Linked DNA regions of Homo sapiens. The protein of the gene in region 1 interacts with the protein of each later gene in a pairwise test. Each region holds a gene or a part of one and is shown in the gene's direction. Other genes may lie near its edges. The genes, in order: SEPTIN1, DNAJB13 and AMOT.

What was found.
Region 2: the proteins of SEPTIN1 (region 1) and DNAJB13 interact in binary tests that used the Homo sapiens proteins (3 or more experiments, as listed by UniProt).
Region 3: the proteins of SEPTIN1 (region 1) and AMOT interact in binary tests that used the Homo sapiens proteins (3 or more experiments, as listed by UniProt).

Annotation. Positions count from the first base shown.
Region 1 is NC_000016.10:30,378,812-30,390,491, reverse strand, and holds the start of SEPTIN1 (septin-1), read left to right. Parts: upstream 1-7,930; 5' UTR 7,931-7,949; coding exon 7,950-7,967; intron 7,968-8,126; coding exon 8,127-8,217; intron 8,218-8,312; coding exon 8,313-8,399; intron 8,400-8,608; coding exon 8,609-8,732; intron 8,733-9,018; coding exon 9,019-9,153; intron 9,154-9,247; coding exon 9,248-9,365; intron 9,366-10,458; coding exon 10,459-10,560; intron 10,561-10,957; coding exon 10,958-11,057; intron 11,058-11,308; coding exon 11,309-11,474; intron 11,475-11,680. UniProt on the Homo sapiens protein: Filament-forming cytoskeletal GTPase. May play a role in cytokinesis.
Region 2 is NC_000011.10:73,966,321-73,973,817, forward strand, and holds the end of DNAJB13 (dnaJ homolog subfamily B member 13), read left to right. Parts: intron 1-1,618; coding exon of another isoform or gene 1,619-1,651; exon of another isoform or gene 1,652-2,024; coding exon 2,025-2,138; intron 2,139-2,925; coding exon 2,926-3,002; intron 3,003-3,640; coding exon 3,641-3,794; 3' UTR 3,795-3,961; downstream 3,962-7,497. UniProt on the Homo sapiens protein: Functions as part of axonemal radial spoke complexes that play an important part in the motility of sperm and cilia.
Region 3 is NC_000023.11:112,815,108-112,826,848, reverse strand, and holds part of AMOT (angiomotin), read left to right. Parts: intron 1-1,628; 5' UTR 1,629-1,777; intron 1,778-3,660; 5' UTR 3,661-3,722; coding exon 3,723-4,594; intron 4,595-7,410; exon of another isoform or gene 7,411-7,524; intron 7,525-10,971; coding exon 10,972-11,491; intron 11,492-11,741.

The DNA of each region.
Region 1 (11,680 bases):
GTTGCAGTGAGCCCAGATCGCACCACTGCACTCCATCCTGGGCGACAGAGCGAGACTCCGACTCAAAAAAAATAAATAAATAAAAATAAAAAAGAATGTAAGTTTATTCATTTGTTCCACAAACATTTCCTGGGTATCCATCAGGTACTGGGCATTTGTGCTGGGAAATAGAAGAGGGTATAAATGGTCAGCATGCCTGCCATATTCATTTGCAGAGCTGCCTAACTCTGACTTTGAGAGGACAAATCCTATAGTTATTAGATCTGAACTTGAATTAATGTCTAAAGATATAGAAGTCCCTCAAGGGATGCAAGGGGTGGGGAAGAGGTAACTGTGAAGACATGATGGCAAGATGAAGAAGAACTAATACGGGCTGGGCATAGTGGCTTACACCTGGAATCCTAGTGCTTTGGGAGGCCAAGGCAGGAGAATCATTTGAGGTCAGGAGTTTGGGACCAGCCTGGCCAACATAGTGACCCCATCTCTAAAAAGAAAAAAGAATTAGCCAGGGATGGTGTTGCAAAGCTATAGTCCCAGCTACTTGGGAGGCAGAAGTGAGCCCAGGTGTTCAAGACTGCAATAACCTATGATCGCACTACTACATTCCAGCCTGGGCAACAGAACAAGACCCTGTTTCTAAAAAAAAAAAAAAAAAAAAAAAAAAAAAAAAAAAAACTAATCCAAATGACTAAATAATTACTAAATGGGAAGAGAGCTGTCCACCACACACTGCCCTATATGAAACTCAAGGTACTGCCTTCCTTTGTCAAAGCAAACAAGCCCCAAATATCATATGAATGATTCGCCATAATTAGTTGGAATTAATAAGCATGGAAATGGACTATGGTGTCACTGTTAATTCATATAAACTCTACATTTAACACAATGACCAAGCAAGAGCCTTTTTTTTTTTTTTTTTGAGACAGAGTCTCACTCTGTTGCCCAGGCTGGAGTGCAGTGGCACGATCTCGGCTCACCACAACCTCTGCCTCCCAGGTTCAAGCAATTCTTCTGCCTCAGCCTCCCAAGTAGCTGGGATTACAGGCGCGCACCACCATGCCCAGCTAATTTTTGTATTATTATTATTTTTTTTTTTTTTTTGAGATGGAGTCTCGCTCTGTTGCCTAGGCTGGAGTGCAGTAGCACAATCTCGGCTCACTGCAAGCTACACCTCCCGGGTTCACGCCATTCTCCTGCCTCAGCCTCCCGAGTAGCTGGGACTACAGGGCCCACTACCACGCCCAGCTAATTTTTTGTATTCTTAGTAGAGAGGGGTTTCACCGTGTCAGCCAGGATGATCTCGATCTCCTGACCTCGTGATCCGCCCGCCTCAGCCTCCCAAAGTGCTGGAATTACAGGCATGAGCCACTGTGCCCAGCCAATTTTTGTATTTTTAGTAGAGACAGAGTTTCACTTTGTTGGCCAGGCTAGTCTCGAACTCCTGATCTCATGATCCGCCTGCCTCAGCTTCCCAAAGTGCTGGGATTACAGGCGTGAGCCACCACACCCGGCCACAAGAGCCTTTTTTGCAGGGTTGTTTTCTTTTTGTTGTTGTTTTTGTTTTTATTTTTATTTATTTTTATTTTTAATTTTCTTTTGAGATAGAGTCTTACTCCGTCGCCCAGGCTGGAGTGCAGTGGCGCAGTCTCGGCTCACTGCAACCTCTGCATCCTGAGTTCAAGCAATTCTCCTGCCTCAGCCTCCTGAGTAGCTGAGATTACTGGTGTGCGGCACCACGCCCGGCTAATTTTTGTATTTTTTTTTTAGTAGAGATGGGGTGTCGCCATGTTGGCCAGGCTGGTCTTGAACTCCTGACCTTAGGTGATCCACCCACGTTGATCTCCCAAAGTGCTGGGATTACAGGCGTGAGCCACCGCGCCTGGACTGTGGTTGTTTTTTTTGAGACAAGGTCTCGCCCTATTGCCACTGCACCTGGCCTGGCATTAATATGTACAAATGCTTAAAATATATAACTTCCTGGGCCGGGTGCAGTGGCTGTAATCCCAGGACTTTGGGAGACCAAGAAGGGAGGATTGTGTGAGTTCAGGAGTTCAAGACCAGCCAGGGCAACATAGCAAGATCTTGTCTTTACTAAAAATCAAAAAGCTTAACTGGGTATGGTGGTGAACACCTGTAGTCCCAGCTAAAACAAACACAAAAACTAAAACAAAAACAGATAATGTACATGTGCATGTATCATAGAAAGATGTAGAGAACAGGCCTGGCGTGGTGGCTCACACCTGTAATCCTAGCACTTTGGGAGGCTGAGGTGGGTGGATCACCTGAGATTGGGAATTCGAGACCAGCCTGACCAACACTGAGAAACCCCATCTCTACTAAAAATACAAAAAAAATTAGCCAAGCGTGGTGGTGCATGCCTGTAATCAATCCCAGCTACTTGGGAGGCTGAGGTAGGAGAATCGCTTGAACTCAGGAGGCGGAGGTTGTGGTGAGCCGAGATCGCGCCATTGCACTCTAGCCTGGGCAACAAGAGAAAAACTCCCTCTCCAAAAAAGAAAAAAAAAAAGATGTAGAGAACACATGAAGCAACAAAAGCATGTTTCCAAAGTTATAATGTGACCCTATTTTTATAAATATAAACAGTGTGTATACATATATATAGGCGTACGAGAAGGATAAATACTAAAATTGGGTTATAGAAAGATAGTGATTGGGAGGCCAAGGTGGGCAGAGCACCTGAGGTCAGAAGTTCAAGATCAGCCTGGACAACATGGTGAAACCCTGTCTCTACTAAAAATACAAAAATTAGTCAGGTATGATGGCAGGCATCTGTAATCACAGCTAGTCGGGAGGCTGAGGCAGGAGAATCACTTGAACCCAGGAGGCAGAGGTTGCAGTGAGCCGAGATCGCGCCATTGTACTCCAGCCTGGGTGACGAGGAAAACTCTGTCTTTTTTTGGTTTTGTTTTGTTTTGGAGAGGAAGTCTCACTCTTGTCCCCCAGGCTGGAGTGCGATGGTGCGATCTCCACTCACTGCAACCTCTGCCTCCCGGGTTCAAGTGATTCTCCTGCCTCAGCCTCCCGAATATCTGGGATTACAGGCATGCGCCACCATGCCTGGCTAATTTTTGTATTTTTAGTAGAGACAGGATTTCAACATGTTGGCCAGGCTGGCCTTGAACTCCCGACATCAGGTGAACCGCCCACCTAGGCCTCCCAAAGTGCTGGGATTACAGGAGTGAGCCATGGCGCCCCGCCGAAACACTGTCTTTAAAAAAAAAAAAAAAAGGCCGGGCGCGGTGGCTCACGCCTGTAATCCCAGCACTTTGGGAGGCCAAGGCGGGCGGATCACAAGGTCAGGAGATCGAGACCATCCTGGCTAACACGGTGAAACCCTGTCTCTACTAAAAATACAAAAAAATTAGCCAGGCATGGTGGTGGGCACCTGTAGTCCCAGCTATTCGGGAGGCTGAGGCAGGAGAATGGCGTGAACCCTGGAGGCAGAGCTTGCAGTGAGCCAAGATCGTGCCACTGCACTCCGGCCTGAGTGACAGAGCAAGACTCTGTCTCAAAAAAAAAAAAAAAAAAAAAGGCCAGGTGCAGTGGCTCATACCTGTAATCCCAGCACTTTGGGATGCCGGAAGTTCAAGACCAGCCTGACCAACATGGTGAAACCCCATCTCTACTAAAAATACAAAATTACCTGGGCGTGGTGGCACATGCCTGTAATCCTAGCTACTCGGGAGGCTGAGGCAGGAAAATCACTTGAACCCGGGAGGCAGAGGTTGCAGTGAGCCGAGATCACACCATTGCACTCCAGCTTGGACAACAAGAGCGAAACTACAAGGGCGAAACTCCATCTCAAGAAAAAAAAAATGGTGATATCACATTAAAAAATATATTTTTTTCGAGGTAGGGTCTGGCTCTGTCACACAGACTGGACGATCCTCCCACCTCAGCCTTCTGAGTAGCTGGGACCACAGGTGCATGCCACCATGCCCAGCTAATTTTTGTATTTTTTGTAGACATGGGGTTTCACCATGTTCCCCAGGCTGGTCTCGAATTCCTGAGCTTAAGCCATCCTCCTGCCTCAGCCTCCCAAAGTGCTGGGATTACAGGCATGAGCCACCACTCCCGGCCCACATTTAAATGTTTATATTTCAATTGCATTTTATAATTTTTCTATGAAAACATGTGTTGGTTGTACAATAAACAGATAAATATATATCATCCTAAATTTTGTATTTTTTTTGAGACAGGGTCTCGCTCTGTCACCCATGCTAAAGTGTAGTGACACCACAATGACTCATTGCAGCCTCAAATTCCTGGGCTCAAGTGATCCTCCTGCCTCAACCTCCCAACTAGCTGGGGCAACAATTGTGCACCACGATGCCCAGCTAATTTTTTTTTTTTAATTTGTAAAGACAGGATCTCACTGTGTTGCTCAGGCTGGTCTCAAACTCCTGGCCTCAAGTGATCCTCCCACCTCGGCCTCCCAAAGTGCTGAGATTACAGACATGAGCCACTGCCTGGCCTACATGTTATCCTCTTTTTTATTTATTTTTTTAATACAGATCGGGTCTTGCTATGTTGACCAGACTGGTCTTGAACTCCTAGCCTCAAGCAATCCTCCCACCTCAGCCTCCCAAAGCACTGGGATTACAGGCGTGAACCACCACGCCCAACATTTTTTTTTTTCCTTTAAACATGTTATTCTGTCAAAGGCTGTTGAATAACTCAGAGAAGAGTTGATCAGGGTCTGAACCCAAAGCAGGTTAATGGCATGGAGAGTGTGAAGAAAAGGGGACCAATTTTTCTGAAGGATAGGTGGGAATTGGAAACTCACTGGAAACACTTGTGGGGAGTGAGAGTGGGAGGAGTTCAGAAAGTTTTTTTTCCTTTTTTTTGAGACAGAGTCTTGCTCTGTCGCCAGGCTGGAGTGCAGTGGTGTGATCTTGGCTCACTGCAACCTGCGCCTCCTGGGTTCAAGTGATTCTTGTGCCTCAGCCTCCCAAGTAGCTGGGATTACAGGCACGCGCCACCACATCCAACTAATTTTTGTATTTTTAGTAGAGACGGGGTTTCACCATGTTGGCCAGGATGGTCTCGATCTCCTGACCTTCTGATCTGCCTGCCTTGGCCTCCCCAAGTCCTGGGATTACAGGCGTGAACCACCACACCCGGCTGATTTCAGAATTTTAACTAAGACCATAGAGATGCTCAACCTGGTGAGAGATGCAGGAGGAAGGCCGGTGGTGGAGTGCTGAGAGGTAACATGATCCCTGCCCTTTGCTTATTTATTTATTTATATTATTATTATTATTATTATTATTATTATTATTATTATTATTATTTGAGAAAGAGTTTTGCTCTTGTTGCCCAGATTGGAGTGCAATGGCACAATCTCAGCTCACCGCAAACTTCACCTCCCAGGTTCAAGTGATTCTCCTGCTTCAGCTCCCGTGTAGCTGGGATTACAGGCATGCGCCATCACGCCCTGCTAATTTTGTATTTTTAGTAGAGTCAGGGTTTCTCCATGTTGCTCAGGCTGGTCTCGAACTCCTGACCACAGGTGATCTGCCTGACTCAGCCTCCCAAAGTGCTGGGATTACAGGCATGAGCCACCGCGCCTGGCCTACTTATTTATTTTTTTGAGACGGAGTCTTGCCCTGTCGCCCAGGCTGGAGTGCAGTGGCAGGATCTTGGCTCACTGCAACCTACGCCTCTCAGGTTCTAGCAATTCTCCTGCCTCAGCCTCCCTAGTAGCTGTGATTACAGGCGTGCACCACCATGCCTGGCTAATTTTTGTATTCTTAGTAGAGACGGGGGTTTCACCATGTTGGCCAGGCTGGTCTCGAACTCCTGGCCTCAAGTGATCCGACTGCCCTGTCCTCCCAAAATGCTGGAATTACAGGCATGAGCCACCGCACCCAGCCCCCCTTTCCAGATTCTTAACAGTCCCTAGATGGTATTAAGTAGCATTTTTGTTTGTTTGTTTTTTGTTTTTTGAGACGGAGTCTTGCTCTGTCACCAGGCTGGAGTGCAGTGGCACGATCTTGGCTCGCTGCAACCTCCACCTCCTGGGTTCAAGCAATTCTGCTTTAGCCTCCTGAGTAGCTGGGACTACAGGCAATGCCACCATGCCCAGCTAATTTTTTGTATTTTTAGTAGAGATGGGGTTTCACCATGTTGGCCAGGATGGTCTCAATCTCTTGACCTCGTGATCTGCCCGACTCAGCCTCCCAAAGTGCTGGGATTACAGGTGTGAGCCACCGCAGCGGTCCTGAGGTAGATTTGTTTGTTTGTTTGTTTGTTTGAGATAGGGTCTTGCTCTGTTGCCCAGGATGGAGTGTAGCGGTGCAATCTCGGCTCACTGCAACCTCCACCTCCTGGGCTCAAGCAATTCTCTTGCCTCAGATTCCCAAGTAGCTGGAATTATAGGTACGCACCACCATGCCTGGCTAATTTTTGTATTTTTGCTAGACAGGGTCTCGCCATGTTGGCCAGGCTGGTCTTGAACTCCTGGCCTCAAGTGATCCACCCGCCTCGGCCTCCCAAAGTGCTGGGATTACAGGTGTGAGCCACCACGCCAGCCAGGTGCTGGGAATCTGAAGGAGGGACAATGACCCTGCCTAGGGTAGGTGGAGAGATTGCATAGAGGCAGAGCCCTTGGAAAGAAACACTTGAAGGATGAGGAAGAGTTTAACTGATTCAGAAAAAGGAAAAGCTCAATGTGGGTAGAGAGCCAAGGACGTTTGGAAGAGTGAGAGATGGGGTGATGAGGCCAGCTGAGGGAGGCTTTGGCAGTCAGGCCAGAATTCAGACTTGACTCTGAGTTACTGGGGAGTTCCTGAAGGATTTTGAGCAGTGGAGTTCTTTGGCCAGGATTCTGAAGGAAAATCTCTCGGGCAGTGGTGTCCAAAGACCTGGAGTCCTTTTATGAATCCATTGTCTGAGCTGGAAAATGTATGGCTTCACCCACTCCCAATCCCATCATGGCTTCTGGTCCACTTTTTTCTTTTTCTTTTTTTGAAACAGCGTTGGCCTGGCATGGTGGCTCACGCCCGTAATCCCAGCAGTTTGGGAGGCCGAGGCGGGCAGATCACGAGGTCAGGAGATCGAAACCATCCTGGCTAACACGGTGAAATCTCGTCTCTACTAAAAACACAAAAAAATTAGCCAGGCGCGGTAGCAGGTGCCTGTAGTCCCAGCTACTCGGGAGGCTGAGGCAGGAGAATGGCGGGAACCCGGGAGGTGGAGCTTGCAGTGAGCCGAGATGGCGCCACTACACTCCAGCCTGGGCAACAGAGCGAGACTCCGTCTCAAAAAAAGAAAGAAAGAAAGAAAAAGAAACAGGGTTTTGCTGTGTTGCTCAGGCTGGAGTGTAGTGGTGTGATCACAGCTCACTGCAGTCTTGATCTTCTGGGCTCATGCAATCCTCCCACCTCAGCCTCCCCAGTAGCTGGGACTACAGGATTGTACCAACATGCCTGGCTAATTTTTTAATGTTTTGTAGAGATGGTAGAGGGGCACGTCCCTCTGTTGCCCAGGCTGGTCTGGAACTCCTTGGCTCAAGCTGTCCTCCCTCCTCCGCCTCCCAAAGTGCTGAGATTACAGGCGAGAGCCACCTTGCCCGTCCTGGGAACTGTTTTCTAATCAGCTCATCAAAACCTTCATCTCCCCTGCTAACAAAGGGAGCCACTTCCTTCCTCTCTGCACATACCCCATGTCTCACCACGATGATGGAGCTACAGTGGGACTTGGAATCCAGATGTGTGAAGGATGGAGGGTTGAAGGTACGTAGACAGGTGATGGGCAAAGGGGTCCAGGAGGTGGCAACCCCAAGTGTTCTTGGCCTTGGCCTTCCCCACCTCTCTGGGACTGGGCCAGTTTGAGCATCTCAGCTGCCTCTTCTGCCCGCCCCCTTGTTAGCCGCACTCAGCTTCCTGCCCCACCAGAGGAAGTGGGGAGAGACGGCAGGTGCAGTGATGGCTGGCGGAGTCATGGTGAGTCCTTACACCCAGAAACCTGGGCATCTCGGCCCCCAGCCCCCATGCCTGGGGTCCCCAGACCCCACTGACTCTTCCTAGCCCAGGAACTCAAGTGATCCTGGGGACCCTGCCTGCCATTGCCAGCAGCCTCATATTGTCCACCCCCATCCATAGGACAAGGAGTACGTGGGTTTTGCTGCCCTCCCCAACCAGCTGCACCGCAAGTCTGTCAAGAAGGGGTTTGACTTCACGCTAATGGTGGCAGGTCTGGGGGTTTTGGAGAGGGAACTGCGGAGGGGATGTCCTTAGGAGGCCCTGGCTGTCCCCTCCCCTGACCAGTTGGGCCTGTTCTGTCCACAGGGGAGTCAGGCCTAGGGAAATCCACCCTCATCAACAGCCTCTTCCTCACCAACCTCTATGAGGATCGCCAGGTGCCAGAGGCCAGTGGTAAGACCCTCCCCACCCTCTTGAGGCAGTAGCCCCTGTCCCCAGGTTACACCCTAGTCTTTTCCATCTGGGGACTCAGGTAGTTGACTGCTTTTTTTCTGAGACTTTCCTCCCCTGGGAAATGGGTGCAGGCAACTGTGATATTGACAAAGGAAATTAATTCTGCCTCAGAGCCTCCCCGGATCCCTGACCTCTCCCCCATCCCACAGCTCGCTTGACACAGACCCTGGCCATTGAGCGCCGGGGCGTAGAGATTGAGGAAGGGGGTGTGAAAGTGAAGCTGACCCTTGTGGACACACCTGGCTTTGGGGACTCAGTGGACTGCTCTGACTGGTGAGGAAGAGGAAAGGGGACAGAGGCTCAGCCTTTCACAGTGGCGACTCCCTGGAGAGTTACAGGACTGGTTTGTGCTGGCTCCCTATCTCAAAAGGTGGTGTCTGTTTCAGAGGGCCACTGGGTCCCTGTGCTTCTTGATGACTCACCTAGGCCCCCACCAGTTCCCCTTAATGTCTTTGGAGGGAGCCAAAGAAATGACATTCTACTCCCACAGTCCTGGCTAGCCTTGCCCCCTGCCCTCTGGCCTTTGATCTCTGACCTCACATCCTCTCCCCACACCCAGCTGGCTTCCGGTGGTGAAATTCATCGAGGAGCAATTTGAGCAGTACCTTAGGGATGAGAGTGGCCTGAACCGGAAGAACATCCAGGACTCCCGAGTCCACTGCTGCCTCTACTTCATCTCACCCTTCGGCCGGGGGTCTGGTGGGGGGATCCTGGGGGCTGGCGCATTTAGGGAGGGCTGGGGGGTCTCTGCCCCCTGAGGCTGGGCAATGACCAATCCCTGGGTGCAGGCTCCGGCCCCTAGATGTGGCCTTCCTCCGGGCAGTACACGAGAAAGTCAACATCATCCCAGTCATTGGCAAAGCGGATGCTCTGATGCCCCAGGAAACCCAGGCCCTCAAGCAGAAGGTGTGAGTGATGACCTCTGACCTTTGACCCCATGTGAAGCCAAACCTGATTTCAGCTTAGACTTCTTTGATCTTGAAGTGGCCTTTCTGGAGCATGGTGCATCAGGCTAGATTGTAGGAGAAGCTTCTGAGGAAGGCGGGTGGTAAGCCGCCAGCATAGCCATGTCTCTGAAGGCTCAAAATAGGCTACATATGCAGCCCCCGGGCTAGATGCCTGGCTGAGGCCTATTTGAGGGCAGGAGCATAGACATGAGAACATAGTGACTTCCCTCTGGCCCCCACCCCGTGTCTTCAGAGCCCTTTCCCACTGTTTCTGCTTATATCTCTCTCGGCCTCTCTTTCTCTCTCTTTTTTTTTTTAGATAGAGTCTCACTCTGTGGCCCAGGCTGCAGTACAGTGGCAAGATCAGAGCTCACTGCAGCCTCGAACTTGTAGGCGCAAGTGATCCTCCTGCCTCAGCCTCTTGAGTAGCAGGGACTATAGATGAACACCACCATGCCTGGCTAACTTAAAAAATATTTTTTTGGCTGGGCTTGGTGGCAGACACCTGTTAATCCCAGCACTTTGGGAGGCTGAGGTCAGTGGACTGCTTGAGCTGAAGAGTTTAAGACAAGCCACGGCAACATGGTAAAACCCCATCTCTACAAAAAGTACAAAAACCAGCCAGGTGTGGTGGTGTGCACTTGTAGTCCCAGTTACTCAGGAGGCTGAGATGGGAGGATCACCTGAGCCTGAGAGGTTGAGGCTGCAGTGAACCAAGATGGAGCCACTGGACTCCAGCCTGGGTGATAGAGTGAAACCTTGTTTCAAAATATATGTGTATATTTGTTGTAGAGATGGGATCTAGCTATATTGCCCAGGCTTCTCCTGGTCTCTTAATGTCTGCCCCATCTTAGAATCTTGTGTTTCTCACCATCTATGTCTCTGAGATTTTGTTTTTGTCTTCCTGTATGTCCATCTCTCCCCATCTCTGTCTTTCATGTCTTTCTCTCTGTCTCTGACCACCCAGTATCTCTGTGTCTCACTGTCTCTGGTCATGAAATGTCTGTCATTGTGGCCCGTTTCACACTGTCTCTATATCTGTTTCCCCTGAGATCCGGGATCAGTTGAAGGAAGAGGAGATCCACATCTACCAGTTCCCCGAATGTGACTCTGATGAAGATGAAGACTTCAAGAGGCAGGATGCAGAGATGAAGGTGTGGGAAACAAAGAAGGAAGGCAGGCCGGGCACGGTGGCTCACGTCTGTAATCCCAGCACTTTGGGAGGCTGAGACGGGAGGATCCCCTGAGGTCAGGAGTTCCAGACCAGCCTGGGCAACATGGCGAGACCCCACCTCTACTAAAAATACACAAATTTGCCAGGTGTGATGGTGGGCGCCTGTAATTCCAGCTACTCGGGAGGCTGAGGCAGGAGAATCACTTGAACACTCCAGCCTGGGCAATGGAGTGAGACCCTGTCTCAAAAAAAAAAAAAAAAAAAAAAAAAAGAGGAAGGGGCAGGAAGCAGAGGAGGCGGGTGTGGAGATTGAAGCTGGGAAAGAGAAAGTTTCTGCCGTGTGAGCCAATGGTGAACCCCTGCCCCCTGCCCTCCAGGAAAGCATCCCTTTTGCAGTCGTGGGATCATGCGAGGTGGTGAGGGATGGCGGGAACCGGCCGGTGAGGGGACGCCGCTACTCCTGGGGGACCGTGGAGGGTGAGTGAGGCCAGGCAGGGGTCCTAAGGCCAGCAGGGAGCCCGGGGCCTCTGGGTCAGGCGCACTCAACATGTGAAGTTGGGGTGGGCTTTGGTCCCAGGGGATCCTAGGAGGAAAGGGGGGTCGCTGGGCTGCAGACCGCGGACCCTCCGCTAGAGTGGCAGCAGGACTTTCCTGTAGACCCGACCCTTACGGGTGGGTTGGACCCGAAACTCCCTGACGTTCGCTGGTCCGCGCCGCCCCCCCTCCAGTGGAGAACCCACATCACTGCGATTTCCTGAACCTGCGACGGATGCTGGTGCAGACACACCTGCAGGACCTGAAAGAGGTGACGCACGATCTGCTCTACGAGGGCTACCGGGCCCGCTGCCTACAGAGCCTGGCCCGGCCTGGGGCTCGCGATCGAGCCAGCCGCAGGTGAGACCCGGGGCGGACAGTATCAGAGCCTCCAAGGTCCCGCCTCACCCATGACCCCGCCCTGAGGACTCGTCCCCACCACCCGTGACTCCGCCTTCACCACTCAGACTTCTCTCTCCCTCCCTCCCTCCCTCCCTCCCTCTCTCCGTCTCTCCCTCTCTCCCCCTCTCTCCCCACCCGCTTTGCCTCCGGCCCTAACCTCAAGG
Region 2 (7,497 bases), on another chromosome or scaffold:
AAGGGAAAGGAGGCAATACTTTTTCCTGCCCCTGTGAGCCTTGGTCTGTAGAGAGCCCAGTCTGCAGAGTGGGTGAGATGGGATCCCTAATGTTCCTTCCAAGGAACAGAGCCTTAGCCTTACAGTGCTTCTGTGAACAGGCAGCCCAGGGACTGTCCCCATTTTACAGAGTGGGAAATGGGGGCCCAGAGAAGAAAGGGACTTGCCCAGGGCAAGAACATGGGAGCTGAAAGGAGATCCCAGTCTGAACTCCAGTGTTTTCCTGATTTTCTTCAGTGCTTCTCAGAATAAAGCCCAATTACAGGAGCTACTCAGAAACCATTTAATCATAATAATTTTATTTATTTATGTATTTATTTATTTATTTATTTTTATTTTGAGATGGAGTCTCACTGTCGCCCAGGCTGGAGTGAGGTGGCATGATTTCAGCTCATTGCAGCCTCCACCTCCTGGATTCAAGCAATTATCCTGCCCCAGCCTCCTGAGTAGCTGGGACTACAGGCATGTGCCACCACGCCCAGCTAATTTTTTTTTTTTTTTTTTTTTTTTTGAGACAGAGTCTCGCTCTGTTACCCAGGCTGGAAGGCAGTGGTGCGATCTCAGCTCACTGCAAACTCCGCCTCCCGGGTTCAAGTTATTCTGCTGCCTCAGCTTCCCCAGTAGCTGGGATTGCAGGCATGCACCACCACACCCGACTAATTTTTGTATTTTTAGTAGAGACGGGGTTTCACCATGTTGGCCAGGCTGGTCTTGAACTCCTGACCTCAGGTGATCCACCTGTCTCGGCCTCCCAAAGTGCTGGGATTACAGGCGTGAGCCACTGCGCCCAGCCACCCAGCTAATTTTTGTATTTTTATAGAGATAGGGTTTCTCCGTGTTGGCCAGACTGGCCTCGAAATCCTGACCTCAGGTGATACGCCTGCCTCGGCCTCCCAAAGTGCCTGGGATTAAAGGTGTGAGCCACCGTGCCTGGCCTATTAATAATAATTTTAAATTAAATACTATTTAAATAAAAACATAAATTTATTGTCCAAGGCGTGCTGAATCCTTAAGTCCTGAGAAGAGGCATTCAGAGCCAGGGAAGACACATTCCTTTGCCTGCACTTTTTGCCCCCTTTCTCACCTATGAAACATCTACCTCCGGTCTGGCCTGGTGGCTCACACTTATAGCCTCAGCACTTTGGGAGGCCAAGGCAGGAGAATCACTTGAGCTCAGAAGTTTGAGACCAGTCTGGGCAACATAGCGAGACCTTGTCTCTACTAAAAATAAAAAATTTAGCTGGGCATGGTAGTGTGTGCCTGTGGTCCCAGATACTCAGGAGACTGAGGCAGGAGGATCTTTTGAGCCGAGGAGGTCAAGGCTGCAGTGAAGTATGATCATGCCACTGCACTTCAGCCTGGGCAACAGAGCGAGATCCTGTCTAAAAACAAAACAAACAGACAAAATACAAATAAAACATCTACTTCGAATAAACACGCTTCAAAACCCAGCTCCAGTGTTCCCCGCTCTGGGCAGCCTCCTCTGAGCCCCAGCCTCTGGGCCTCCCTTTATCATGTCTTGAGCGTGCTGAGGATTCACTGTCAGTGTTAGGGGCCAGTCTGATTCCTCTGTCCCCAGCGCCCAGAAGAGACCTCAGCAGAGTTTTGGTGACTTAATGAAGTTTGGGACAGGGGTGTCATGCCTGGAGTTACTAGCAAGACAGAGACATACGGGCAGTTGCCTGACGCCCAGCTTAGTGTTCCACCTGCCTGCCGTCTGAGGAAGCCTCTCCGCCCCTCCAGCTGAGTGTGTCTATTTTGGGCATGCTCAGTACAGAAGTAATTCTGGGGGGATTCATTTGGGTAAGCTTCTCGGGCTTCTAATCCATCTGGGCTATGGGGGCCAAACTGAAAAGGCCCTTCCAGAAAACCTGCTCTCATCTCCCCATTGTACAGATGAAGACATGGAGACAAGTAGAGGCAGGAACTTGGCCAAGGTCACACGGCCAACTAGTCCTTGTCACCTTTTGGCGTCCCCTGCCCAGGGCCCCAACATCATCCCAGCAGACATCATTTTCATCGTAAAGGAGAAGCTACACCCTCGCTTCCGCAGGGAGAATGACAACCTCTTCTTCGTGAACCCCATCCCTCTTGGCAAGGTGAGTGGGCAAAGTGCAGGAGCAGCGGGGAGGAGATCAGAGTGAGCCCTGCCTGCCCCGGCCTAGACTTGGCCTCCCCTCCCACAACCACCTGCCATCAGTCACTAAGCCCTGTGGATTCCACCCTCTAAATCACCATCCACTTGGTCCCGTCTGCTCATCTGCACCGCCTGGATCTGTACACCAGATCTGCGCAGCAGGCCTTCCTCCCCACTTCTCATCTCCTCCAGGCTCTTCTCCTTAGGGATCCTGCCACACACTCATCAGACCCTGCCACACTCCTGTCTAAACATCTTTGTGCCACTGGAGGCCCTCTGCGATCTGCTCCCTGCTTACTCCTTCCCCTGCACTCCCGCCCCTTCGCCGCATAGCACCCTGCCTGTGTGGCGCATTGTCACACCTCCGTTCTCATTTCTGCTGGGCCCTCTCCCTGGAATGCTGTCTATTCACCTGACCCTATAGGGTCCTCATCAATAGCTACCACCACTGCTACCACTTCCTGCCCCACTCCTGAATGGTTTAGGGGCCTCTCCTTGGCTCCCACAAACGCTTTTATTCTGTCTCCATCATTACATTTATACAACATCCATCTTACCTGCCAGATCCATCCATCTTTCCTGCCAGTGCAGAAAATTGCATGGGTCATTCACCTATTAGTTATTGAACAGCCTCGTCTCCCTTGTGCCCAACTCACAGTCTGGCACTGGACAGGTTCCTAAGGTGCCTTCTAAATAGGAGAGCCATGGTGACCCTCCTCAGCCCCACCTTTGGCCCTGACCCTCCCTAGGCTCTCACCTGCTGCACTGTGGAGGTGAGGACCCTAGATGACCGTCTGCTCAACATCCCCATCAATGACATCATCCAGTGAGTCCATCTGCCTTGGGCCCCAGTAGCCAAGAGAAGGGCTAGCCTGGGATTTAGGTGGTAGTGTGACAGGTCTGCCCAGTAGAGTTGTACAGGCTGCCCCCAGCAGAAGGGTTCCCTGCTGAGGGGATAGAGAGGACCAAAACTGAACCCACACTGGCCAAGCTGTGGGCTGCAATCACCTGGCAAAAGGAACATCTTTTTCTAATCCACACAAAGCCACTGCAGAGGCTAGAGGCCCCCATTGTTGGGCAACCCTGTAGCCTCCATGCCCTGCAAACTTCTCATTAGAGTTCTGAGTTGCATATCCTAAGTCCTTTTCCAAGAAAGGCCCTCTGCCCGTGAGGAGGTTTGCCTGGCAGCCCAGCACCCTCGCCCTCACCCCAGGGTTTGCTCACCTTTACTTCCCGTTTCCCATGTCTTAAACAAAGTTTCTGGAATCCTCCATCAGAGACTCAGTGTAAACAGGTTTTCAGGGAGCTCCTTTCCCAACCAGTTCTGGCTAAGAACCACTCCAGGTGAAGACTGCAGTGACTGTCCCCTTCCTGGGGTTATGTGAGTAGGGGTTATATGACAGGGACCTGCTGAGGTGCTGCTCTGGGATGCCCTCTATGCTCCTTTCTTTCATCCTATTTCAGCCCCAAATACTTCAAGAAGGTGCCAGGGGAGGGGATGCCATTGCCGGAGGACCCCACTAAGAAAGGGGATCTCTTCATCTTCTTCGACATCCAGTTCCCCACCCGCCTCACACCCCAGAAGAAGCAGATGCTGCGCCAGGCATTGCTGACATGACTGTGGTGGGCTGGAGCAGGGGTGAGAGGAGGCTAGCCGGGCCTCACCCCACCCCTACCCGCCACAGCCTCAGGGTGTGCAGGGGAGCCTGCTGCACAGATATGATACAAGGGTGGGATGGCGCAGGGCTTAAACTGACATAATAAAGATCTATTTCCTGTCCTCCAGCTACACCCACGAGAGTACATTGGAGAGGAGCTTCATATTAGCCCTTCTTGTGGGGCACAGGGAAGAAAGAGGCCTAAGGAGCTGAGTGCCTGAGTCCCTGTCCTGGCTTTGTGGGAAAGGGCAGGTAAGGGTTCAGATCCTCTGTGCTTCCACTTTGATAGAGTGGGGCAGGGCTGTGTGGCCTCTGAGGGTCTCTAGCTCTGCTCTGGCTTTTCATGACAGAAGAGACAATCTCTGGAGCATGATATGGTCACGTTAGAGACAGGAAAACTAAAGCACAAAAGAAAACATTCATTGCAGGTCACTCAGGCCTCAGTGGCAAAGCTGTCATCAGAACCTTGAAGGTGGCTGGGTGCGGTGGCTCATGCCTGGACTTTGGGAGGCCAAGGTGGGCGGATCACTTGAGGTCAGGAGTTCGAGACCAGCATGGCCAACATAGTGAAACCTCGTCTCTACTAAATACAAAAATTAGCCAGGTGTGATGGTGGGCACCTGTAATCCCAGCTACTCCAAAGGTTGAGGCAGGAGAATTGCTTGAACCTGGGAGGCAGAGTTACAGTGAGCTGAGATTGCACCACTGCACTCCAGCCTGGGCGAAAGTGAAATTCCATCTCAAAAAAACTAGAAAGGCCGGGTGTGGTGGCTTATGCTTGTAATCCCAGCACTTTGGGAGGCCGAGGCAGGTGGATCACCTGAGGTCAGGAGTTCAAGACTAGCCTGGCCAACATGGTGAAAACCCGTTTCTACTAAAAATACAAAAATTAGCTGGGCATGGTGGCGAGGGCCTGTAATCCCAGCTACTCGGCAGGCTGAGGCAGGCGAATCACTTGAATCCAGGAGGTGGAGGTTGCAGTGAGCCGAGACTGCGCCACTGCACTCCAGCCTGGGTGACAGAGCAAGACTCTGTCTCAAACAAAAAACAAAAAAAACCCCCAAAAACCTTGAAGGTCACTTCCCACAGACTCGCCCTGCGTAGAGAAGCAGCATAAAGAACACATGTGCACTGGAAACAGCTTTGGTTCTACCTCTCTGGCCTCAATCCCCTGGTCTGTGATAGGGTCCTGGGCAGGGTGATCTGGGAGGCAGGAAACCTGAGTTCTGACCCCAGCCCTGCCACTTTCTCCTGGGACCAGTCACCACACCTGTCTTGTCAGTAAAGCAGAGCCCATAACCCCCCTCACGGGCATGTTGTGAGGACAGAGAACATTGATGTGAAAGTGCTTGGTGAACTCACTGCTTAGATTCAGGAAGGGGTAACAGCACTGCTGCCCTCAAGGCCTGGAGTTCCAGCATCCAGGTCCAACTGGGCCTGCGTAGACCACACTTGCCTCCTCATAGTCAACACGTGTGTTATGCTCCCCTTCCATGCCAGGGAGGTTCCCTTCTAGAGTCTGAGCTTGGGTGAGGATAGATCCAGGCTTACGGGGAGTAGGTAGCCAATTCCATGGAATGCCTTCAGAGGTGCCAGAAAAGGCCCCATGTTCTCCAGATTGCTTGGGACTCCACCATTCAAATCACATCAGCTTAAGGTTTTTTTTTTAAAACGGGGGTTCAGTAGCACTTTTGTCATTAAAAAAATCACCATGGGCTGGGCGCGGTGGCTCATGCCTGTAATCCCAGCACTTTGGGAGGCCGAGGCGGGTGGATCACAAGGTCAGGAGTTCAAGACCAGCCTGGGCAACATGGTGAAACTTTGTCTCTACTAAAAATACAAAAATTAGCCGGGCATGGTGGCATGCACTTGTAATCCCAGCTACTTGGCAGGCTGAGGCAGGAGAATCACTTGAACCCAGGAGGCAGAGGTTGCAGTGAGCTGAGATCTTGCCACTGCACTCCAGCCTGCACGACAGAAGAGACGCCATCTTAAAATTAAAAAAAAAATCACCATGAAGTCAGCTACCCAAAGACCTTGAGGTGAAGACTCTGGGACCAGGGCTCCAGGAAGCATTTCAGCATAGTAGTTAAAAGCATGTGGGCTTTGGAGTCAGACACACCTGTTCTGGATCCCCAGTGTGCTACTAGCCAGCTGTGTGCCTTTGGGCAAATCACTTCACCTCTCTGAACCCGTTTCTTAAAGCTTACAGCCCCTACCTTGCAGGCCTTTCATGGAAACCAGATGGTGAGGCATGAAATGCTCTGGGGCAGGACTCAGGTGGAGTGGGATGGTGAGAGCTGCCCTGTTCTGAGGGCAAGCCCTGAATTGGAGTGCAGAGGCAGGGCTGTGAAATTCTTCAACTCTAGGTCTCCTGTAGGGCAGCAGGAAAGCCTACTCCTTATCTTGAAGGAAGCCTGGGTCTTGGGCCTGAAAGTCCCTTAGGAGATTCCTATTACCTTAGTGATCTTCAGTGTTACCTTGAATTAGGCAAAGCAGGGCTTATCATCTGCCCACTTAATAGGCATTAAAGGGTTGGGAACCAAAGAGAAGTGATCTACCTGTGATCAGAATGAATGAGACCCACTGGTATGTTTTCCAGTGGTTCCTACCACTGTTCCCAGCTCATTGTCCTAAGGCCACACCCAGAACCACAGTGAAGTTGGGTAGCCTCGTGTCTATTAAGGCTGCTGAATGAACCAGCTGACTTGCTCATGCCCACCCAGCCTGTTTAGCTTTGACACACACCTACCAAACTGCCCCTACTTCTTCCCGTCCAGAGCAGAGCTAACAAACAGCCTGCCTCACAGAATTAGTGTAAGAAGGTACATAAAGTAGTGGCCAGGTCCTCTGTATATGCCACCCCCTGCAGCCTGGCTGAGCTGCCTGTCACCTTTACCCTGGTTTGCCGACTTATGGCACTCAACCCTGTCCCTCCCGAGGACTATGGGGCCTCAGCTCAATTTGTCAAAAACTAAGAAGCTGAAGAATCCTGGGCCCTCGTTCCTTCTCCAAAAACCAATCTAACACCCTGGCCCTCAACCCAAGCACTGAAGGGTCTAGCCTCCAGCTCTGACCATTGGGCTTACGAGGCGGCGAAGCAGCAGTGGCTTCAGCGGCTTGAGGCTGAGGGAAGAGGGAGGGTGGTCGTGTTCTCAGGGCCTAGCTCCACAGCTGCCAAACAGGCTTCCCCAAGGACCCCAGCACTGGTCTCTGGGGGAGTCCACAAGGGGAAGGAGGACTGGGTCCCGGTCCCAGTTCAGTAGTGGACTTTCTGGGTGTTCTTGCCTGCATCACCTGTGTCAGGCCTCAGTTTCTTCAGACACCTACAAACTGGGTCTGAGTGACATAATTCTAAGGGCCCAGCCCTACAGGAGATGCCTTGGGATTCCAGGACCTCACAGTCTCCACTCCTTGAAATTGTAGTACCCCTGCCCACCTGCCTCTGAGTGCAGGTGATAAGAACAGGGACAGAGAAGCGGAGACCCCTGTGCAGCCAAGGCCCTGGCTTCTTGCGGCCTCCTTGGATGCCTAGCTGGGGCAGGGGCAGGTGGAGGGGGGTTGTGGTGGTGAGACTCCAAATGGAAAATATCCTGGCCAGGCACAGTGGCTCATGCCTGTAATCCCAGCACTTTGGGAGGCTGAGGTAGGTGGATCACTTGA
Region 3 (11,741 bases), on another chromosome or scaffold:
ATACAGAGGACAGAATTGAGAGAAGAGAGTAAGACCTTGCACGAGAAAAGTTTTCTCAATGAAGAGCTGAGTATCAGGAGAAAGTCAGTAATATCAGCATGAAGAATCTAAGTAGTACTGGAAAAAAATCATATGGTAGTTTCTCTCCAGGGACTCGCGTTTAAAAGCCTTGGGCTGTTTTCTGGTGTTTCAGTTGGAAAAAAAAGGATGAGTGTTTTGTTCAGAATTGGACAATAGAAGCACGGTGGTTATGTACCATAGCTCTGTTAACAGTCCAGCTTTGATTCCAATTAGAAGTTGTTCCTCTGCTTCAAAATTAGGGGAGATACCCTAAAATAATTACCTTGCAGATTTGAGATGATTTTGCTTTTGATCATGATTATATGTTGTGCCAAAACAAGATGGAAAGACACATTTCCGTGTTTGTTCACTCTATATCTGTTCACTTTATTTTTGGCAACATTGCAAGGAAATAATGTTAAATTAATCACTTTGTGGTTTTGTGGAGTTTTTAAAAACTTGAATGTTTTGAACATGCTCTCAAAATACAGAGATGTTTGTGTACTTCTTTTGCATTGCTTTCCTCCTCTCATGGAGTCACTGGTGTGGATTAAGCCTTTCCTTTAAGTGATATGAATGAATCATACATAGGCCAGGATAGAAGATAGGAATGTGGTTCATGTGCATGTCACTTAAACTCCTGAGTCTTAGAATCATTTTGATTAGGCTGACAAGGCTTTGCAGAGAGTCCAGGCAGAAATTAGACATAAGGACTATCTCAAATCCAGGTCTATTATTCATTTGCATCCAGTCTATATAATGTAAGTCTATGAGTTTTTTTTACTGAGACACTGGGGCAGTGGAAGTGCCAAGAAAGCAAGTGGAGGCATCTTCTGCTTGGAGAAGGGTTGCGCTCTGTGTTGGGAAGGGCAGTCTACTTTCCTACTCCAAGAATGGATGGACCATTGATCAGATGATCAGAGTGTAAGCTCCATGAGGGCAGGAATTATATTTTATGTGTCTTTGTAGCCCTTATTGTGTCTAGTATGAGGCTGACAAATGTGTGGAATAGTTGATACACAATAAATACTTAATGACTTGGTTGAAAAGAAGGTTCTTCCCCTCCCCTCCACCTATCTGAGCTTGAGGCACTCAAATTGGGAGCCTCACTGAGTGTTCTTTTTTTGACCAAAAACCTACCTTATGATGACTGCCCTCCCTTCTGGGATGTGGGACAGTGAGCCTCACTAACCTCCCCTGCTACTAATAGCAGTTTAAAGTTTGCACCCTAAAGGTGACAGTGGTTTTGGCTTTTGTCATCATCCACCATTCCAACTTGGAATGGAAGTGGTAGCTTTCTAGGGCTGTGAGGTCAGAACAGAGCAAGTCTCAGACCTGAACATTTCCATCACTGGAGACTGGCCTGGCCTTCCGGACACAGCTACTGGACACTGAGGTTTCTTTTCTGCCCTAGTGGAGATGGACTCTGCTACTCATTTAAAAGCCAAGCACCATAGGAGGACAAGTCATTCTCTTGGAAGAACTGGTTTGATTAACTGCTGGCCATTGGTGGCAAAATAGAAACGACGTTTTTATTTCTCCCTCCCTCCCTCTCCTGAACATTTCAGAGTGACCAGTGGTTGGACTCTTGGCGGCGCTTACCCTGAACCTGAGTGTTAGGGGAGAGGGAATCTGCCGTTGCGGTTTCTGGAGCTGCTCATAAGCAAGAATTCCCTATCCTGATCAAGGCTTTAAGCCTAAAAGAAAGCAGAAATAGGTATGGAATATTTCTGTGTGTGTGTGTGTGTGTGTGCACACGCTCGTGCATGTGTGTATGCATGTGTGCCTGTGTGCATGCTGGGTGGGGTGGGTGTGACGTGGGAGGGGGTGGTATACTTTTCAGGGTCCAGGGCAGCTCAGTGTCTGCATTTCCCTGCCTTACAGGGAGGGTTTGTAAATCACTTTTGCTTTAACACCATACTTGTTCCTGTTTCCAGTTTGTGAGCAGGGAAAAGTAATTTGGTAGTCATCTCTCTAGTTTTGGGCACCAAAAAGGATTTATATATTATGCTTGTCAGCCTATCAGAATATCCCAATTTGACAGTTCAAGTACAGGAGTCCTGGAGGCACATTGGGAGGAATGGAAAAGGGACTGGGTTGCTTAACCCACTGGTGTGCACTTCCCAAGAGAATATGATGAGAGGGACTTTGGAGGGTCCCTTCGTGTTGTCAGACTGCCCAGCGCAACAGTTGGAAGCCAGGTAGCAGTAACCAACAAGACGTGAAGAAAGAGAGAAGATGAACTTTCTTCATATACTATATGTACATTCTGGGTCACTCTCTCTCTGCATGACCAAAAGAAAGGGGTTCGTGTTTCCAGAGAGATTGCAGGCCACTTAATATCATAGAAATAAGAGCCTGGGAGCCAGGGATCCAGAGTTGCCATCTAGAAACCTGATGCTGGTTAAACTGACCTTTATTGTGACTTTTCGTGTGACATTATGTTCATTCTCCACCAATTACTGAAGATCCTTAGAGTGAAAGTTTCATTATTGAACATTATTACTTAATTCCAATACTTAACATTGACAGATTCTGCCCAAAGAATTTTTGAATCTCTAATGAATTAGTGTGTACTATACAGTGCTGAGAGAGAGAAATCACCTACCAGCCATTTTTTGTTGAGAAAATAGACATCAAGAAAAGAGGAATCAGTTGTATACCCTGTAAACCAATAGTATGATTAGAATTTGAATATTAAATTGTGTTACTAAAATCAGTTTCAGTCAACCCATAGTACCTGTTCAGAAGAATTGATGGTGAGGGAGGGGATATGCTAATCGTATACCCTTTCCAGAAGGATGATCTTTATATTTTTCAATTTCTAAATTTTGTCAGAGGCACACTTCAAATAAAAGAGGCTTCCCCTTTAAGCTTCTACCCAATAACAATAACAGCAAATCTAAATGACTGTTTCTGGAGAGCTGAAAGGCAACTTTGTCAGTAATAAGTATTCCAAGTCCTTCTCTTATTAAGCCAAGGAGCATCCAAAATGGAGACTATGAAAATGATTTTTTAAAAAGATGTTTCAGAGCCTTATGAGATCAGAGAAAAAGATTTGCATCGAGGCAGGGATCATTACTGTCTGGTGCAAGCCAAGCTCTCTTCACCTTTTATTTATTTGAGTCTTTATTTTGCATTTTGTAGCTGCCTTCATATGCTGAGCTGCTTTACAAATCCTGTTATGGGGTAACTTTCCCCACTGTCCTGCCCCCACCTCCACAGCCATAAGATTTGGGTTTTTGCTTTAAATAGAATACAGAGAGATGAAGCCTGTGAATATGGACCTTGAAAAGTTACCCCCTTTGATTACCCTAGTTGACTGTTCCAGGTTTCTCAAGCATTCTTAGGAGTTAAGTCCAGATTGAATATTTAACTCATGCTAAAAGTGAAAGAGAAAACCTAGAGCTCTTATGCCTCCATGTTCTTCATCATATCAGTGCTAGGGCCTGGAATCCCCAACAATCTATTAATTTTAGAGTCAATTCTCTACTTTGTTTCTGCAATCGAATCCTCACCCTCCAATATCCATTTTCTTTCCCTTTAGAGGACTGATTTATCCATCAACTGGGTGTTAAGCTTCCTGTTTCCCCTTCCCAGGTCAAGGGCAGCCCAGGTGCCCAATTTCTCTCTCTCTTCACAAGGCACCACCAGCAATAGAGATGAGAAATTCTGAAGAACAGCCAAGTGGAGGGACCACGGTATTGCAGCGTTTGCTACAAGAGCAGCTTCGCTATGGCAATCCTAGTGAGAATCGCAGCCTGCTTGCCATACACCAGCAAGCCACAGGGAATGGCCCTCCTTTCCCCAGTGGCAGTGGGAACCCGGGCCCTCAGAGTGATGTGTTGAGTCCCCAAGACCACCACCAACAGCTTGTGGCTCATGCTGCTCGACAAGAACCCCAGGGGCAGGAAATCCAGTCAGAAAACCTCATCATGGAGAAGCAGCTGTCTCCTCGAATGCAAAATAATGAAGAACTCCCGACCTATGAAGAAGCCAAGGTCCAGTCCCAGTACTTTCGGGGCCAACAGCATGCCAGTGTTGGAGCTGCCTTCTATGTCACTGGAGTCACCAACCAGAAGATGAGGACTGAGGGACGCCCATCAGTTCAGCGGCTCAATCCTGGAAAGATGCACCAAGATGAGGGACTCAGAGACCTTAAGCAAGGGCATGTCCGTTCCTTGAGTGAACGACTAATGCAGATGTCACTGGCCACCAGTGGAGTTAAGGCCCATCCACCTGTTACCAGTGCTCCCCTCTCCCCACCACAACCCAATGACCTCTACAAGAATCCCACAAGTTCCAGTGAATTCTACAAGGCCCAAGGGCCACTTCCTAACCAGCATAGCCTGAAGGGCATGGAACACCGAGGCCCCCCACCAGAATATCCCTTCAAGGGCATGCCACCCCAATCTGTAGTGTGCAAGCCCCAAGAGCCAGGGCACTTCTATAGTGAGCATCGCCTGAACCAGCCAGGGAGAACAGAGGGGCAACTGATGAGGTATCAGCATCCCCCTGAGTATGGAGCAGCCAGGTAAGAGAGTTCTGTTTCTGTCATTTCCTGACCTCATCCCCAACCAGCTTCTGCTGTGTGTTGGGAATCTTAGGGAAGGAACGGGCAGGTGTTTGATATAACAAACTCTGCAATGCATGACAGGCCTCTGGCTTCGTGAATTGCCTGCCAACCCGAATTTGTATCCTCTTTAGCCATAATTAGCACTGTATTAACAATCCCTTAGCTTTGTAGGTTGAGCATGGCCTCAACTGCCTAGTGGACGAACAGGAGCAAAAGTCTTGTTTTCAGCAGCTATTTGCTGTCCTCTCTCCTAGGATGTTGAAGGGGTCTGTGTTTCTCATAAGCCCTCCTTGAGAGGTAGAAGCAAATTACCTTGCACTTTAATTAGTCTGGAACATCCTATCACTTGCACATATTCCCCTCCATGAAGCTTTCATCATTTATTTTTGCAAACAAATCTGTGTATTTCTTGTCAGTTACCATTTTTCCATAGAATTACCATTATTCTTTTGGACTAAACAAACACCCAGATGTTATGGTGGGGGAGCTATGTATGTATGTAGGTTCAGAATGTTACTTGCCTTATGCTTGCAGTTTATGAAATCTGGACTGTTGTATCTTTTTTTTGTAGAGAATTTATTAGTTGCCTGTCACATTTTTAAACCTCTGAGTTAAATTCCCATCACATCATATAGAAATTTTGGTCAGATGCTAAAATACAGAAGGAAAAATATTACCATTTCTGTCTTATATATTTAGTTGTTCCTATATATACTTCTTAATTATTCAGAGGTCCATTGTCCCACTGCTATATTCACTAGACCTTATGATTCTATGATTCTGTTCATTGTTCCTGTTGTTAGTATTTGGGCCATGTCTCTGATCAGTAGTATTTCCACATATAGGGCAGGAGAAAAGGTTTAAACCATGGGGACCGATGGTGGCATTTAAGTGTGGTATCCTGCCTCATGGCCATGAGTAATGATGGGTGACCATCAGGTTTGAAGTGCTTGGTCCTAGGCTGGCCTTCATTTATATGCGGCTCACAGACTAGGTCTGTGATGTCCTTTGATGTCTACCTCTTTGTCTCCTGTACCCTACTTGCTCATTTTGGAAAAAACCTTCTGGCTTGAAGTTCATTGAGTGACTCAGGAGAGAAGGCAGTCATGGGGTGGAGTAGGGTGAAAGTGAGAGAAGGCACCTAGCATTTCCTGGTATTTCTTTTTTTTCCCCTGCAGGTCCTGTTTTTGTAGCCAGAGGCAATTCACTTTGGACTCCACCTCTAACTTTGCCAGTTTAGGATTTTTTTTTTTTTTTCCCTCTTAACCCAGGTTGATTTCCTAACCCTTTTCAACCTCCTCTGTGCAGCTTTCAAAGGGCAGGAGCCTATGTTCTGATCAGTGTCTTGGAACAGGAAATGGGGTAACCAACAAGGCTACTCAGGTTTAAAAGAGATCAAGAACCAGATTCCCATCTGACCAATGAAACAGAAGACCCAGGGAGGGGTTGGTCTGTTCAAGACTGCCTCACTTAGTGGAAACCCATTCAAGCCAGCAAAATATCAATGAAGCTGGGGGTTTTTATTTTGCTTTTCCCATCAGTATGGAAGAGTCTGTTGATGGGCTGATGTCTGTTGCCTTGTGGGAGGGGAGTGTGTTGGCTGGGGTGTGGAGCAGAAGCCACAGCCCCACTCAGCACACAGCCCGCCTTCCCAGGAAAGCTATTTTCAGAACTCATTCACCAGTATTGTTTGTGATCTGAAATGACTCCCACAGTGTTTGAAGCTAGATGGAAAATTATCTGCCCTTTGATCTGCCTAAATAAATAATGAGGAGCCCAAAGAGGTTTTCTTTTTTTTTCCTTTTCTTCCCATCCTGATTAAACCACCGGAGAAATTTAGCTGCATGTATTTTACAGGAAGATACATATTTTTTATCCTCCCACCTAAGTTATCTGTGGATTTCTCTTTCTTTCTGTCCTCAAAAGCAACAGAGCCCATGATGATCTACCCTTGTTGAGCAGCATTTTAATACACAGTTTTGCTGTAACAGGTTTTTCTCTATGGGAAAGGAGCAGAGTGCTTGATAATGCTTGATGAATAAGCAAACCTAAAATGGCCCTAGTGGGAGGATGCTCCATATGAAATTTGGGTCTGCATCAGGCAAATACTGGCCGTAAAATTGTTGCAGGGCCCTACATGAGGGAGTGGCACCTATTGACAAATTACTGGCAAAAGGAGGTAGTTGAACTGCTTTCCAGAAGTGTACTGCTTTAAGGTGGTGACACATTTTCCCTCCTTTATTTCCTTTAACCAACTAGCTATACAGTTTGTGAGTACCTTTCCAAGTAACTGCTGCTAGCAGCAACCAATTAGAAGACTACATTCTGAGCCCTTAATCCACAAATTACAAGTCAGGATGCAAAGCAAACTCTTTGAACAAATTGCTGTTAAGAAAACATTTGCTTGCTTTTCGAGGTGCAGTGAACTGCTGGAGATTTGCTGTTAAAATGAACAAAATTATAAACAATCCTTTTATTACTTCATCTTTCTTATGCCCTCCTCCCCTTAAAAAATAAATACCTTGAATGCCCAGAACCCCAGATGAGAAACAAGGCAAAGGCTATCTGAATAATTTTAAAATTTCAGAATCTTTGTCTTTCTAAGTGCTGAACCTTTTCTGCATCCTGGGTTTATACATTTATCAACTGCTTTTAAAAATTAAATCATTTCTGTTTATAAAGCAGCCACCTCCTTTCAATTGTTGAAATCATGCCCAGATCTGAGGTTTCTTGAAATCCTTGTTTAGTGGAATCTAAGGGTGACCTAACTCTGTAGTTCAGAGCAGAGCTGGTTGTGCAAGAGAAACCATCAGGAATTTGCAGCCTGCTCCAGGATTCACAGATTCACCGATTCACCATTGCAGAGCCTGGGAAAGGCAGTTTCTGTGGTGAGGATCAATCAAGTTCCAGGCTATTGGGTGGCACCTGCTCTGGTGAGAGTGTGTGTGCAGGATTGCACATGTGTGTGCCAGGAGTGTGGAGTGTGTGTGTGCATGCACATGTGTGCATGTGTGTGTGGCTGGGGAGGGTGAGGGCTCCCAGTCATCGAGGTGGCAGGGTGGAAGGTGCTGTGTCAGCTGGGTAGAGTGGCTTTTACTTTCCCTTTGAGTCCTTACTACTGTCTCTGGGAGGAGTGTACCCCCCACCCTACCCCACTTCCCAGCTTTGGGGAGGATCCTGATTTTAGTCACTGGCCTTTGTCCTGCATGTATGCTATGTCCCCTTTTCTGCAGAGCCCCAGTGGCCCAGGTAGCCTTAGGAAGGAGCAGGATGAGGGGACGGAAGTGGCAGGAGGCAGGTCAGGGCTTGCATGGAATCATGTGATTCTGTTGTCTGCAGGCGGCTTGTTGTTCCTGGTTAACGTGTCAGTGGGGAGCGATTCAGGCTGCTGTGTGCTGGAAGGACCTGGAGAGTGTGCTGCTCACATGGCTGCCACCTTTATTATTACTGTCATTACTTTTACTGTTATTATTTAACTTGGGGTGTATTTTGGCTTCCTCTGACATCCGCCCCCTCCAACTCTCCCTTACCCCGTCATTCCTTAATCTCTTTTTCTCACGGGGAGCTTCACCCCAGTGTTCATTCCGTCCTGCTTTCCCCTGGTGGGTGGATGCTGGAGCCCAGATTGAGTTCTTCACTGAAGGGCTTTCTCTCCCTTTGTGACTGCCCAAGCCATTGCTGGTTTGCAAACCAGCCAGTGACGGGCTGCCTTGGTTTTCCCAACATCACGGTGCACTGAGATCTGCTTCCTTTTCCAGCCTGGGGAATTGAGGGGCAGCTGCCTTGTCTCTGCTTATCTTCATCCTCAGCTTATCTGACCCCAGAGACCTCCTTCTGGAGACCTCATGGTCTCCTCCTTCCCAAGGTCCCTGGAAGGCCATGTGCTGTTGTCCAGGGAATGCAGGGGCCTTTCAGTCTCCAGGCAGGAGGGAGGCCAGTGGCTGAGTTTGTTTGAGAGAGAGGCCTGGGTTGCTTGATGAGGCCCAGGGGAGCTGTGGAGAGAAAGCCCATTTCAGAACTGGGCGTTCAGTCTTTAAAAGAGAATACCTCCCAGGCCTTGGACTGCAAATCCTGGGAACAAAAATGAAGGTTAATATAGTGATTTTTTTCCCTTAAAATTTGAGAGCTGCATTGGAGAACATGAAACTTAAGCCCCTCTTTTCTGCCCACAAAGCAGAAAAGAGACACACAAGCCCCAACAAATCTCAGGACATTATATTTTAACTCTGTAGGCATGTAGAAATTGTAATAGCTCTCATTCAAAGAGAAAAAAGAGCACTTAGTCTTTTACCTGTGAGGAAACTGAAGATCCATAGAATGGAAAATAGGAGCTCTTCACCAAATAAATGTATAAATAACTCCCAGGCTTTTGATTGAATGAGTGCTTTGAGCTCTGGGGAAAAATATTATGTATGGCAGCAACTTTCCAGTTGTACTTATGAGTACCATGTCAATTCTTCTTTGCCCAAATAGTTCGCATGCCCTCTTCAATATTCAGCAATTATTTATAATGACAGATGTATGTGATTGGAAGAATGTGGGTACACCAGAGGCATAGATGGGCCTGAGCGACAGAATCCAGGGTTTGTACAGGTTTGAGGACTCTTGGGGAAGATGTAGGTTATTGGGTATCCATGAGAAAGTGTTTGGAATGATTTTGTAGCTGTAAAAAGCCCTTATAGTTAAGATCTCTTGTAAAGATGGATACATGAACAGTAATGGTAACTGGAGTGTGTGTCTGAGGAATGTGCTTTAGCATCTGGAATGCCAGTTAAAAGTTAATTGCTCCTGGTGATTTGTCCCAGTTCCACCATGAATTTTATGCAATTTATTGCAAAGATTAAATGGATATCCTTTAAGTAACAAGCTAACAAGGTCAGCTTATCTCACTGGGAGGTAGAGAAGTGACTGTAATTCCTATTCCGCCAAAAATGAGAAGACCCCAGTATTTTTGCAATTTATTTGTGACCTCAAGAATAAAATGGGCTCATGCAGATTAAGTAACTTGCACCAAGTTACACAGCTCGTGAGCAGTAGAAGAGGTCTCCAGACTCCCTCTGTTGGGATCCAGATCCCATGCACTTAGCCATCTGTCTTCCCTGGATTGAGAAATATCAACTGTAGAACAAGTGTCCACAGGACATGGGAGCATATGAGGTTAATTGGGCATGAGCTAGGGCATGAACAAGCTTTTTGTCTTCAGTGCACACTGACAGATACTATTCCTGGTAGTGGTGATGGTGGAAGTGATCCATCCACATACTAATTGTTTCCCTTAATGGCTAATAGTCATTAGGTATGAATTATTTATACTTAGGTGTTAGCATTTTGTACCTGGTAATTAGGTACAAAAATGGGAGAGCCACATTAAACAATGTACCAAAGGTCTCTTTCTGGAACTTTCTATGAGCAATAGGTTGGAAATCTAAGTATCAGTGCACAGAAATCAATGCATTATGGCAGTAGAAAAAGCCAGAAAATGGGAATTGGGAAAGAAGGATTCTATCTTGGCACCACCACTCTAATATTTGGCAGATGACTTCCCCTTTCTGGACCTCATTCCCCATCTGTCCAGTGATAGAGTTGAACTAAATAATTTTCTTTTAAGGCCTTTCCAGTTCTTACATTTTGCGATTCATTACATCAAAAATAGTATGTTAGCATTGCTTGTAACCCTCTTCAAGTCTTTTTATGGTTACTGCTAATGGGAATCATTAAATCGTTAACAACTGGAAGCAACAATAATCATTTAGTGTCTCTAATATAAGTATCTACCAATCCTTGAATAGTTTTTTTTCTTTTTTTTTGTGAATGTATGAATTACTAAAGGGAGTTGCAGATAGCAAGATGGGGGTGGTTTTTATGGCTGTTTGTTGTTTCCATCCTGGCAAATGGAACATAGTTTCTAAACTAGGATCTTTATGTGTGCTGGACCACGTGTATAATGTCAGAAAAGGTTTAATTTAAAATAATGAGATGAAAATTACCTTGTAGAAGAATCGTTTGAAATGTTTAGACTTGAGCAAACGGGTGTACAGGTGTGTATCACTACGATTTTCACAAAGTGACCATGGAAGTTGTCTGGTTCTGACCCTCATGGGATCACACCTCTGTTTGTCAGGCAGAGGCACAGAAGGTCAGGCTGGAAAAGGGCTGTGGTCTTTGCAGAGATAGAGCAGGCAGGGTTAGACTTCCCCATAGTCAGACCCTGCCTGCTCTTCATTTTGCAGGTGTCCTGGGGGCATCAGAAGCCTCCTCATCTCACTTTTGTGTGCCCTTCTCCCCCAGTGCCTTAGGAGAGAAATTAACCCGCACCTGCCCTTCATGTTTTACAGGCCAGCGCAGGACATCTCATTGCCATTGTCAGCCAGGAACTCGCAGCCTCACAGCCCTACTTCTTCTCTGACCTCTGGGGGGTCCTTGCCCTTGCTACAATCTCCACCATCCACTAGATTGTCTCCTGCCCGACACCCCTTGGTCCCAAACCAGGGAGACCATTCAGCTCACCTGCCTAGGCCGCAGCAGCATTTCCTTCCTAATCAGGCTCACCAGGGGGATCATTACCGTCTCTCCCAACCTGGCCTGAGTCAGCAGCAGCAGCAACAGCAGCAGCAGCACCATCATCACCATCACCACCAACAACAGCAGCAGCAGCAGCCACAGCAGCAGCCAGGAGAAGCCTATTCAGCTATGCCTCGGGCTCAGCCATCCTCTGCTTCTTATCAGCCAGTGCCAGCAGACCCTTTTGCCATTGTTTCCAGAGCCCAGCAGATGGTTGAGATCCTCTCAGACGAGAACCGGAACTTGAGGCAAGAGTTGGAAGGATGCTATGAGAAGGTGGCAAGACTGCAGAAGGTGAGGCTTCCGTTTTGGGATATTAGGGTCTCTAAGTCTTTATTTGTGAGACTTGTTTAATATCCACATTAAAGTCTCCAGTTGTGAATCCCAGCATTACTTGTGGCAGGTCTTCAGGATTTTTATATCTGAAGGTTAGATATGAGTCAAACTTTGGAAAAAGCCTTCTACCTGTCTACCTAGGAGAAGTAACGTCTTACATTTACACAAGGAGAAAAAAATTTATGCAGTTTTTCCAGACGCTATAGCC